Linked DNA regions of Homo sapiens: regions 2 and 3 are each reported to be linked to region 1. The links are microRNA targets in miRTarBase. Many come from high-throughput screens and were not tested one by one. Region 1 holds a microRNA gene; each other region holds the end of a gene's coding sequence.
Evidence for each region. Region 1 holds the annotated microRNA hsa-miR-125a-3p (ACAGGUGAGGUUCUUGGGAGCC, at 2,303-2,324, opposite strand). A microRNA usually pairs through its seed, bases 2 to 8, with sites in the 3' UTR of a target mRNA and lowers its output. Matches are read on the target gene's strand: a 7mer-m8 pairs with bases 2 to 8, a 7mer-A1 pairs with bases 2 to 7 and ends in A, and an 8mer does both.

Region 1 (3,403 bases):
TGGAGAGGTTTAGGGCCTCAGGTCTCCCTTTAGGGTGGAGATGGGGAGAGCCACAGCTGAGGCCTTCTCCAGGCTGGCCCTGGATGCCCCCTGGGTGGATGGGAACCTTCCCTCTTCCGGGATTGTTGACAGGACGCTTGGAGGGCAAAGCAGGAAGCAAAAGGAGCGACTGTGGGTGTGGGAATAAGCCCTGAGCTCCTGGACCTAAGAGGAAGCCAGTTTATTCTATAGCGCAGGGCTCTGTAACTCCTGCAACTCCGAGCCTCCACAGTTCCAGGGTCTGGCACCTCGTGGGGATCATGGCCATGGTGATCAGGCATGATTACCGCCCATGCTGCCCATCGGCATTGCGTGGCCCCCAGCCCTGAGGTCTCTTCGCACAGCCACACACCTCAAGGCTGTCACATGTGCCTGTCTCACCAGGACAGTCACACCTTGTCTCTTTTCACTGCTGTCACCTGAGTGATCCACTCTGCTGTTCCTGTTTTCCCGCCCTCTAATTGCCTCACACCTCAAAAATGTGGAATCACTTTATAAGAAATCTGTGTGTGTGTGTGAGTGTGAGTGTATGTCTCTGAGCGTGTCTGTGTGCGAGTGTGTGTGTGTTCTATCCTAGAGGAAGATGCCTTCCCTAAGATCAGGCTCATCAGGCAGCCCCAACCCCTGCACTGAGCTCCATGGCCATCCTAGGAGGCAAGAAGATTGTCCCACTTTACAGATGGGTAAGTTGAGGCCAGGAGAGGGGCAGTGACACACCCAGAACTTCATAGCCAGTAAGAGTGTGAGCCATGCAGCCATGGCAGAACCTATGCCTACCCGACCCCATCTGGACTTCCAGCTCTAGGCAATTTCTGCAGCGTCCCTTCCCCCTCACCACCTTCAGCCCCTGGCTCTTAGAGCTGCCTTCAGCCTTCGTTTGGACAAGTAGCTGAGCTCAATGTCTTCCCAGCTTTCCCCTCCCGGATCACTGCCCAACTCTGGGGGCCTCCTTCCTCTGCCCTGGGCCCTCCCACATACCCATTTCTTAGGGGCTCCAAGTCCACATCTCCCATCTCCCCATCCCCACACACTCACCCTGGGCAGCAGCCAGCTCCTGCAGGGCATGGGTCATCTGGGTGAAGGTGTCATGCAGGTGGCTTCTCTCATCATAGTCTGGCGGTGAGGGAGGGAGCAGGGGCTGGGGGAGGCAGCTCCCCGCAACACCATGTCCCTAATGCGAACATTCTGTTTCTGAGTCTCTGCCCTCCCAAGTCTGTATCCTCCCCTCTCTGACTCTTTGCCCCACAGTCGCTATGCTTCCTGAGTCCCTCCCAAGTCTCTATCCTCCCTGAGTCTCTGCCCCCGACCAGTCGCTATCCTGCTTCCCCTAGTCTCTGCCTCATCTCTGTCCTCCTCTCTCTGGGTTTCCATCCTCTTTGAGTCTCCATCTTCCACCCTCTGAGTCTCCATCCTCCCCTCTCTGGGTCTCTATTCCCTCTCCAGTCTCCAACCTCTCCTGACTCTCCATCCTCCCCTTTCTATGAGTCTCCATCCTCCTGACTCTCCATCCTCCCGAGTGTCCATCCTCCCCTCTCTGACTCTCCATACTCCTGAGTCTCCATCTTTCCGAGTCTCCATCTTCCTCTCTCTCTGAGTCTCCATCCTCCCCCTCTCTGAGTCTCCATCTTCCCCTCTCTGACTCTCCATCCTCCCCTCTCTGAGTCTTTGCCCTGCTGTCTTCCCCTGTCTGTGTCTCTCTGTCCCTAAGTCTCTGTTGTTCTCATGGTCTTTGAGCCTTTCTCCTCTGACTGTTTCTCTCTGTCTGTCCCTCAGCCTGACCCTCTGGGCCTCTCCTGCCCTCCCTCTGCACCTTCCCCAGGACACTGATGAAGTGTGGATGGTCTCCTCACTGATTTCGGTGTCAGAGAGGCCCTGGAAGGCGGCCGTGAAGGCCTCCTCACACTCTTCAAGCTTGGGGCTCCGCATCCCAACAAACATCTGGCAGATGCGGAGGCGCTCAGAGTAGGTTGTGAAGCAGAGGAGACAGGCCCAGGCGGGCACCCTGAAGACAGCCAGGGCCAGCAGGGCAGACGGGACGGCACTGGCCAGAGCCAGCAGGGCCATCGTGTGGGTCTCAAGGCCAGGGGAGAAGCTAGTAACCTTTATGAAGTCACCACAGGGCGGGGGAAGGGCCAGTGGTCTGGGGTCAGAGGTCAGGTTTCAGTTGGTGGTCAAATGTCATGCTCTGGAGGAAGGGTATGAGGAGTCAGGGGTCAGAAGTCAGGCCAGCAATTCCCCAGGTGTGTGGTTGGGCCAGACGCCAGGCTCCCAAGAACCTCACCTGTGACCCTGGATGTCCTCACAGGTTAAAGGGTCTCAGGGACCTAGAGACTGGCAACATGGTGTGCGGTGGCCCGGTAGACCCTGGGGTGGGGGTCAGAGATGGAGATAGGCACAGAGACATTCTGAGAGCCAGAGACAGAAAGACCAAAAACGACAGAAATAGAGACACAGAGAGATATCGGGAGGGGCAGAGACCTAGAAAGCCAGAATAAGAGGGAGTCAGAGGATCCACTGTGAAAGAGACACAGAAGCCACAGAGACACAGCAGAGATGGAGACAGACAGGGAAGGAAAACAGATTTCAGGGGAAGGAGGGGATGCAGGGACAAGGACAGAAAAGAGCCCGGCTCTTCCTCCCAGGGTCCCTGGGGCAGCCCAGTGGGGCTAAGGGTCCCTGAGTGGGGCTGGGGGTCCCCGCCGGGCCCCGTCCCGTGCAGGGCGCAGCCTGGGGAAAGCTAGGAGGCCGTATAGTGATCTCCTTGGGTGTCCTCCTCAACTATACAACCTCCTACCTCAGCCCGGGGGGCGCGGCAGGTGGACAGACCCGACAGACAGACAGACAGGGACCAGGAGGACCAGGGATGAGGGGGAGGGCCGGGGAGGCCCCAGCCGCGATGGTGAGCCCCCGACACGGACCCACAGACACGAGCTTGTGTGCGGCGAAGGCCCCGCAAGGTCGGTTCTACGGGTGGGTGCCAGGACCCAGGAGTCCGGGCCCCCGGCCCCTCCTCCCCAAGGAACCCAGGAGTCCAGGCCCTCAGCCCCTTCCTCATCAGGGACCCTGGAGTCAAGGCTCTCATCCCCCTCCTCCCTAAAGAACCCAGAAGTCTAGGCCCTTCCTCACCACAGACCCAGGAATCCAGGCCTCTGGCCCTTTTCTCCCCAAATGTTCCTGGAATCCAAGGACTCAGCCCCTTCCTCCCTCAGACTCATGAGTCCAGATCCAAAGCCTCCTTCTCCCCAGAGACCCAGGAGTCCCTGCCCCCAGCCCCTCCTCCCTCCGGCCAGGCAGGCCTCCTGGGGAAGGCATGGCCTGATAGAAAACCTGGCTTCCTGGGTGCCGGCTGGGAGGGAACCTCATT
Region 2 (3,000 bases), not on the chromosome of region 1:
TTCACCCACCCATCCCCTCACCCACTCATCCATACATCCATCCATCCATCCATCCACCCACCCACCCACCCATCCATCCACCCACCCCTCCCATCCATGCATGTCTCCTATCAGTTCTGTTCCTGGAGAACCCTGACTAATGTAGTGGTCACTCCCATCTGTTTCTGTTGGACTCTGTCCCCATCATAAGTGAGCCCTCCCCACAACAAGCACTCTTGATTTAACCTTTGCCAGTCCCAGTTAAATGTTTATAAAATTCAAGCCGTTCACTGGCTGTTCTTCCAGGTGAGGCAGTGTTGCCAAAGGCACCGTCTTGCCTCTTTGTAGCAAGCTAGATCTGCCCAGGGCACCTGGCCTCCATCTCGCACCCCACCTGGTTCCCCCATCAAGGCTTGGTGGCTCTGGGTGCATGGAGAGTTTTACTATGAAATAGCTCTAGCAGTGCCATTGACTCAGAAGGCACTTGGCAAACAGACTCACCATTTCTATTAAAAGAGACATGGAGTCTTAAAAAATATTAAAATGACTAAAATCAACAAATTAGCTGCTGTTGCTGAAGGCCTGCTGGGAGGCAGGTTCCAAGCCATGCGCTTTGCATATGTGACCTTGAGCCACCCAGCTCCCCCCATCCCCTACAGTGAAGACACTGAGGCACAGAGGAGCCGACAGCAGCAGGCAGGTGGGCAGACGCCGTAGTGCCCGTCCTGGTAATAGAACCTCCATTCCACTCACCCCTTCCCAACCCTATGCCCTCTGGGGGAGGCAGATGCCACCTTGGCCAAGGGCCATCTTGACCAGCGTAAGCCAGCCGTGGCCATGACATGGTCATCTTGTGAACACAGGCCATGGTTTCAGCCATGAGATGTGGGGCTGGTGGGGACGGGGTGGTGGGCAGATTCTGGAGGGTTTTCCTGTCCCTCAGTGGGAGGACAGAGGCTTCTCTCCCTGCCTCTTGATGCTCCCATGTCAGCTGTACTGCCCAGAACCACAACAGCAGTTGTAGGCACCCCAGGAAGACAAGCCTGAGGTGAAAAGCTGACTGTGATTAGGAGGCGCAGTGCTGTTCACCCGAGGTCCCAGCTACTCAGGAGGCTGATGCGAAAGGATTGCTGGAGCCCAGGAGGTTGAGGCCAGCCTGGGCAACATAGAGAGACACTCTCTCTTAAAAAAAGAAAAAAAAAAAGACAAGCTGATGCCTGGGGATCCCCAGCGATGCTGCCTTTGGATCCCTTGGCAGGCGAGACCAACCAACCCCCACTTCTTCAGCTGGGCCTTCTGCTGCTGGGACCAGAAGCACTGACGGCAGCGGCGAAGGCTGGATGGAGAACCAGGCCTGCCACCTCTGGGTCCAGCCTGACTGCACCCTTGGCTATGCCCGTCCTCTCTTGGAATGTGGCTTTCCTACGACCTGAAACCGTGGAAGGAGAAGGAGAGGGAAGGGCTGGGGGGAGGCAGAAGCCTGACCGTCAGATCTGCCAAGAACAGTCATCGTTTATTTCCACGAGTATTTCTTGGCATTAGGCAGATATTGAAGAACAGGCTGTGCAAGATTTATAAACGCGGGGACAGCTGGAGGGACGTAAGAGGGGCCGGATTTACCAACAGCGGTGGCACGCAGCACACCCGCCTTGCCTGGAGAGTGCAGGGGCCACGGCCTGAGGAATGGGGGCTCCCGCGGGCAGACGCAAAACTCAGAAAATGCCATTTATTTTATCATTTTAATACCGGAAATGCCAGACCAATCAACAGGGAGGACAGACCAGACACAAATGCCTGTGCTCACAACACGGATGGGAGGATCATCACGGCTCAGGGCACACATGCATTTCCTTAGAAACAGGCAGACAAAGAGAGCATAAATACCACACAACAGCCAGGCTCAGGGGGCTGCGGGCCACAGAGGGCTGCGCTTCAAAGGCAGTCAGAGGCATTAAATACGGGACCTACACAATACACTCCACTTCACCATACATAATTTATATATTAAAAGAAAGGGGACCACAGTATCTATACGTGCAAGCGGCTGTGGTGGAGAAAATGAACGGGGGGGCAGCCATGCACGGGAGGGGCTCCCTGTATACCCTCCCGACGCCTCGTCCCCACCCTTCCCACAGAGTCACTTGGGATCACAAAACGCATGGGCCGGCCGGGGCGCAGCCTCGGGAGGTCCTGCCTGGTCTCCTCGGCATGGACCTCTGAGCTCCCCGTGAGCCGGGAGGTGCCTGGAACCAAGAACACTTGAACCCTGCATGTCACCACATCCCTGGGAGTTGCCCTGGAAGGGACCGGGCCAGGCGTGAGGGGAGGAATGTCGCGTTGGTCAGGTGGAGGAGGGAGGCGCAGCCACCGGGCTGGGCAGGTGCAACGCATGCCCCAGGCCCGGGGCCCGGGAGAGCAGGAACGATTGCGGGGCATCCACTCTTGCAAGCAAAGCTTAAACGGCACGACAAGCCTGTGTTTCTCTGCAACTGTCCAGGGGCCGCTCGCTCAGAACTGACTGGCACTGCTGGGGTCGCACTGCAGCAGGCGGACGATGGAGGGGTCGCTCTTGGCACCTCTGATGAATTCTTCCAAGGACAGTTTGCCTGCAGGGGACCAGAGACAATGGGATTAGCCAGTGCTCACTGTTCTTTATGCTTCCAGAGAGGATGGGGACAGCTCTCAGGTCAGGTATGCTCCCTTTGTTGAAAGTCCTGAGCCTTCTTGAAGCTGGACGGTGTCTAGTCTCCATTCACTTTACAGGCATTTCTGAAAAAAAATCCTTTTTCCTTTCCCTGCTCCCTGCAATACATCAGGTACCTCAAAGGGCTTACCCAGCAAGCTCAGCAGGACGTGGCTGATGAGGGCCATTTAAATCCTTTTAGAAATCACCCCACACTTCGCTTATTAAGGAACGTGTACACTGTGCAGAAAAATGAAGCATTTGCCTCTAACCCATACAGAATCCAGGCTGAGAAGGCCATGCTGGTTGGGGGCCCCCGGAAGCACGGTCCGGATCCT
Region 3 (3,000 bases), not on the chromosome of region 1:
GCAGTGAGCCGAGATAGAAGCTGGGCAACATGAGACCCTGTTTGAAAAAAATTAAAGTTATCCCCCCCACCCATATATATATACAGAGAGAGTTTAGGCAATTATTTTCTCCCTGTCTGTAAGTTGCCTTTGTACTCCTTAATGAGTATTTTGATAAACAGAAACCTGTTCTCACTGCTACATCATTTCCATTGTGTGAACATCCCACGATAATGGCAAAGGAGGTTAAATACAGCTTAATTTATTCATCTTTTCCTCACTCCTAAGGCCTTGAAGATACTCACTTACACTATCTCCTACAAGCTCTCTCTCTCTTTTTTGAGACAGGGTCTCGCTGTCAGTCATGCTGGAGTGCAGTGGCACGATCACGGCTTGCTGCAGCATCCACTTCTTGGGCTCAGGTGATCCTCCCACCTCAGGTTCCCAAGTAGCTGAGACTACAGGCATGCATCACCACACCCAGCTCATTTTTGTATTTTTAGTAGAGACAGGGTTTTGCCATGTTGGCCAGGCCAGTCTTGAATTCCTGGGCTCAAGTGATCTGCCCGCCTCGTCCTCCCAAAGTGCTAGGATTACTACAGGCGTGAGCCACCACACCCGGGTGAAGCTCTATAGTTTTGCTTAATTTTTAAAACATTAACTGAGGTAAAATATATTAATACATGAAATCTATCATTTTAACCATTTTTATGTGTACAATTCAGTGCATTAAGTACATTCACAATGTTATGCAACCATCACCACTCTCCATTTCCAGAACATCTTCATCATCCCAGAGAATCTGTTTGCAGCCTCACTCCCTATTCCACCCTTCCCCTAGCCCTGGCAACCTCTACCTTCTTGTCTCTGAATTTGCTTATTCTAGATGCCTCATCTAAATGGAATCATATTTGTCCTTTTGTGTCTGGCTTATTTCATTTAACATGTTTTCAAAGTTCATCCACGTTGTAGCTGGCATCAGAACTTAATGCCAGCCCCACACCCACCCCCTACCGTATCAACTCACACAGAAGACAGGGGACAGGGCCAGCAGTATCCTCTGCCACCTGGTCACCTACGTGGCCGACTGCCAATGAGAAAATATTGCCCTCTAAGAAACCTTGGAGGGACTTCTTGGAGGCCGTTTGTGGGGGACATGGGCTCCCAAAGCACATACATGGTGTAGGGTAGGAGGTAAGGAAGGTTGGCTGGGCTGTCCTCACATATGTGGCAGTGGAGCAAAGGATCCCAAGGGAGGTGGCTTCCATAGTGAAGGAGCAACGCAGAAGCCAAGCGAGCTGCAGCCCAAAGGCAGGGTGCTGGGTGAGGTGTGGCCAGGCAGGAAAATGGGCCCCCACTCAGGACTGCCACTTCCCAGGTAGTGGCCTGAGGCCGAGGCCGGGCCCTTCTGCAGGGCTGACTGCCCCACAGACTGCTGCGGGGCCGCATGCTCTGCCGAGGTGGGACTCCACGTACAACGGCCCCCGAGACTATCCCGCTTTCAGTGAGAGTTTCTGAGTCTCTGAAGCTGCCACACGACTTTATTTGTGAAGCCCCCGGGCACAGCCCAGACACACACAGAGCACAAAGGGGAAAGCATGGGGCAGTCACGGGTGCTCAGGGAGGTCATACAGCATCTGCCCAGTCCAGACCCTACCGCTCCCCTGCCCCAGGAGGTCCTTTAAGAGCAGCGTCCAGATGCAGCTCGGACATTGGGGACCCTGCCTCTCCCTCCCCAGACTGGAGAACAGCTTTGGGTTGTCAACACTCCCCCTCCAGCCAGGCCAGTCACAGACGACATCTCAGCAGCCAGGAGAAGGCCCACTAGGTCCGGGGCCAGCGCAGTCCCAGCAGCTCCTGCTCCTGGACAATCTGGTGTCTGCCTGTCCACACGGTGTGGGGCCCAGGGTTGCCCTCTGCCAACAACCCCACGATCCGACCCCCACAGTCCCACCCATGGCATTCTCTGCTCTTCAGGCTGAGCGGTCAGCACAGTGGTATGGATGGTAGGGGTGACAGCTGCCGCAGGACCAGGGCTTGGTGACGAGAAGCAGCCCCAGGCAGGGCAGGAAACAACCCAATCACAACACAGAGGGGAAGGACAGCACGCGGGCAACTCCCTGGGTTCTGGCTCCGCCAGGGAGCCGGGCCGGAAGGCAGGTGGGTGGGGACGGCCATCAGGGCCCAGGCGGAGATCAGCAGAGCGCCCTCAGGTGGAGGTGAGTTTAATGGCGGAGCAGCTCACAGCCCTTTCCCCTGGGGGCCAACTCCCCACAACAGAGCAGGGCTGGGCCAGCAGAAGACGTTAAAACCCAAATCCCGACAGGAGGCACAGACCTGCACATGCGCCACACCCACACACATACTCAGGGGACTGACAGGACACATGGGACACAGACCCGCCCTGCCTGTGGCCAGAGTCCTGTCCAAGGCAATGGCGTAGGCTGCGCCTCAGTTCATCCGAGTCCCTCCCCAGCTCACTGGTCCAGGCCAAGGGATGGGAGAGGCTTTGAGTCTAGACCTTGTACAGCGTCTGCAGCAGACTGTGGCGGGCGAAGGAGCAGGATTCCAGGGCGCTGTTGGGCCTGCGGGGAAAGAGGGGTCAGCAGGTCGGTGGATGCCTCTTGGCCTGTTTTCCAAGTGTGGGGGCCATTTTGGTGCCAGACTCATTTTTGTTAATTTGCACAACGACTCAGCAAGAGAGACATTAGCCCTCTGCCTTCTGCACACCGTGGGTGGGGATGGGAGGTGCGAGAGGCTCAGAGAGCCAGGCACCCAACGCCACACAGCCCAGAGCTGGCCAGAATGAAGGCCCCCTCAGCCAGGCTCTCCAAGGGCCCTTCCAGCAGACATAGGCCAGGGAATCCTTACTGGCTGCCAGTGGCCACATAGGACTGGCCCACTAGAGTCCAATCTGGATCATAAGTAAATGGCTAGCCATTGTTTTTTTGGTTGCTTTTTTTCTTTTTCTTTTTCTTTTTTTTTTGAGACGGAGTCTCGCTCTGTCACCCAGGCTGGAGT

Region 2: the mRNA of HPCAL1 is a reported target of hsa-miR-125a-3p. Seed matches in the 3' UTR shown: 7mer-A1 at 2,321-2,327.
Region 3: the mRNA of RANGAP1 is a reported target of hsa-miR-125a-3p. Seed matches in the 3' UTR shown: 7mer-A1 at 2,189-2,195.

What each region holds. Positions count from the first base shown.
Region 1 is chr19:51,692,227-51,695,629 of GRCh38, reverse strand. It overlaps MIR125A (microRNA 125a), which reads right to left and starts at 2,376; the gene lies at 2,291-2,376. It overlaps SPACA6 (sperm acrosome associated 6), which reads right to left and starts at 2,300. Exons shown (of 9, transcript NM_001316972.2): 1 at 1,890-2,300; 2 at 1,075-1,152. The coding sequence starts at 2,103. SPACA6-AS1 (SPACA6 antisense RNA 1) reads left to right here and starts at 2,174. Exons shown (of 2, transcript NR_108100.1): 1 at 2,174-2,996. MIR99B (microRNA 99b) reads right to left here and starts at 3,018; the gene lies at 2,949-3,018. It also overlaps MIRLET7E.
Region 2 is chr2:10,426,309-10,429,308 of GRCh38, reverse strand. It overlaps HPCAL1 (hippocalcin like 1), which reads right to left. Exons shown (of 5, transcript NM_002149.4): 5 at 1,705-2,585. The coding sequence ends at 2,488. Among named protein-coding and RNA genes, the nearest start is that of SNORA80B, 19 kb to the left of the region's middle.
Region 3 is chr22:41,244,109-41,247,108 of GRCh38, forward strand. It overlaps RANGAP1 (Ran GTPase activating protein 1), which reads right to left. Exons shown (of 16, transcript NM_002883.4): 16 at 671-2,564. The coding sequence ends at 2,495. Among named protein-coding and RNA genes, the nearest start is that of CHADL, 4.7 kb to the left of the region's middle.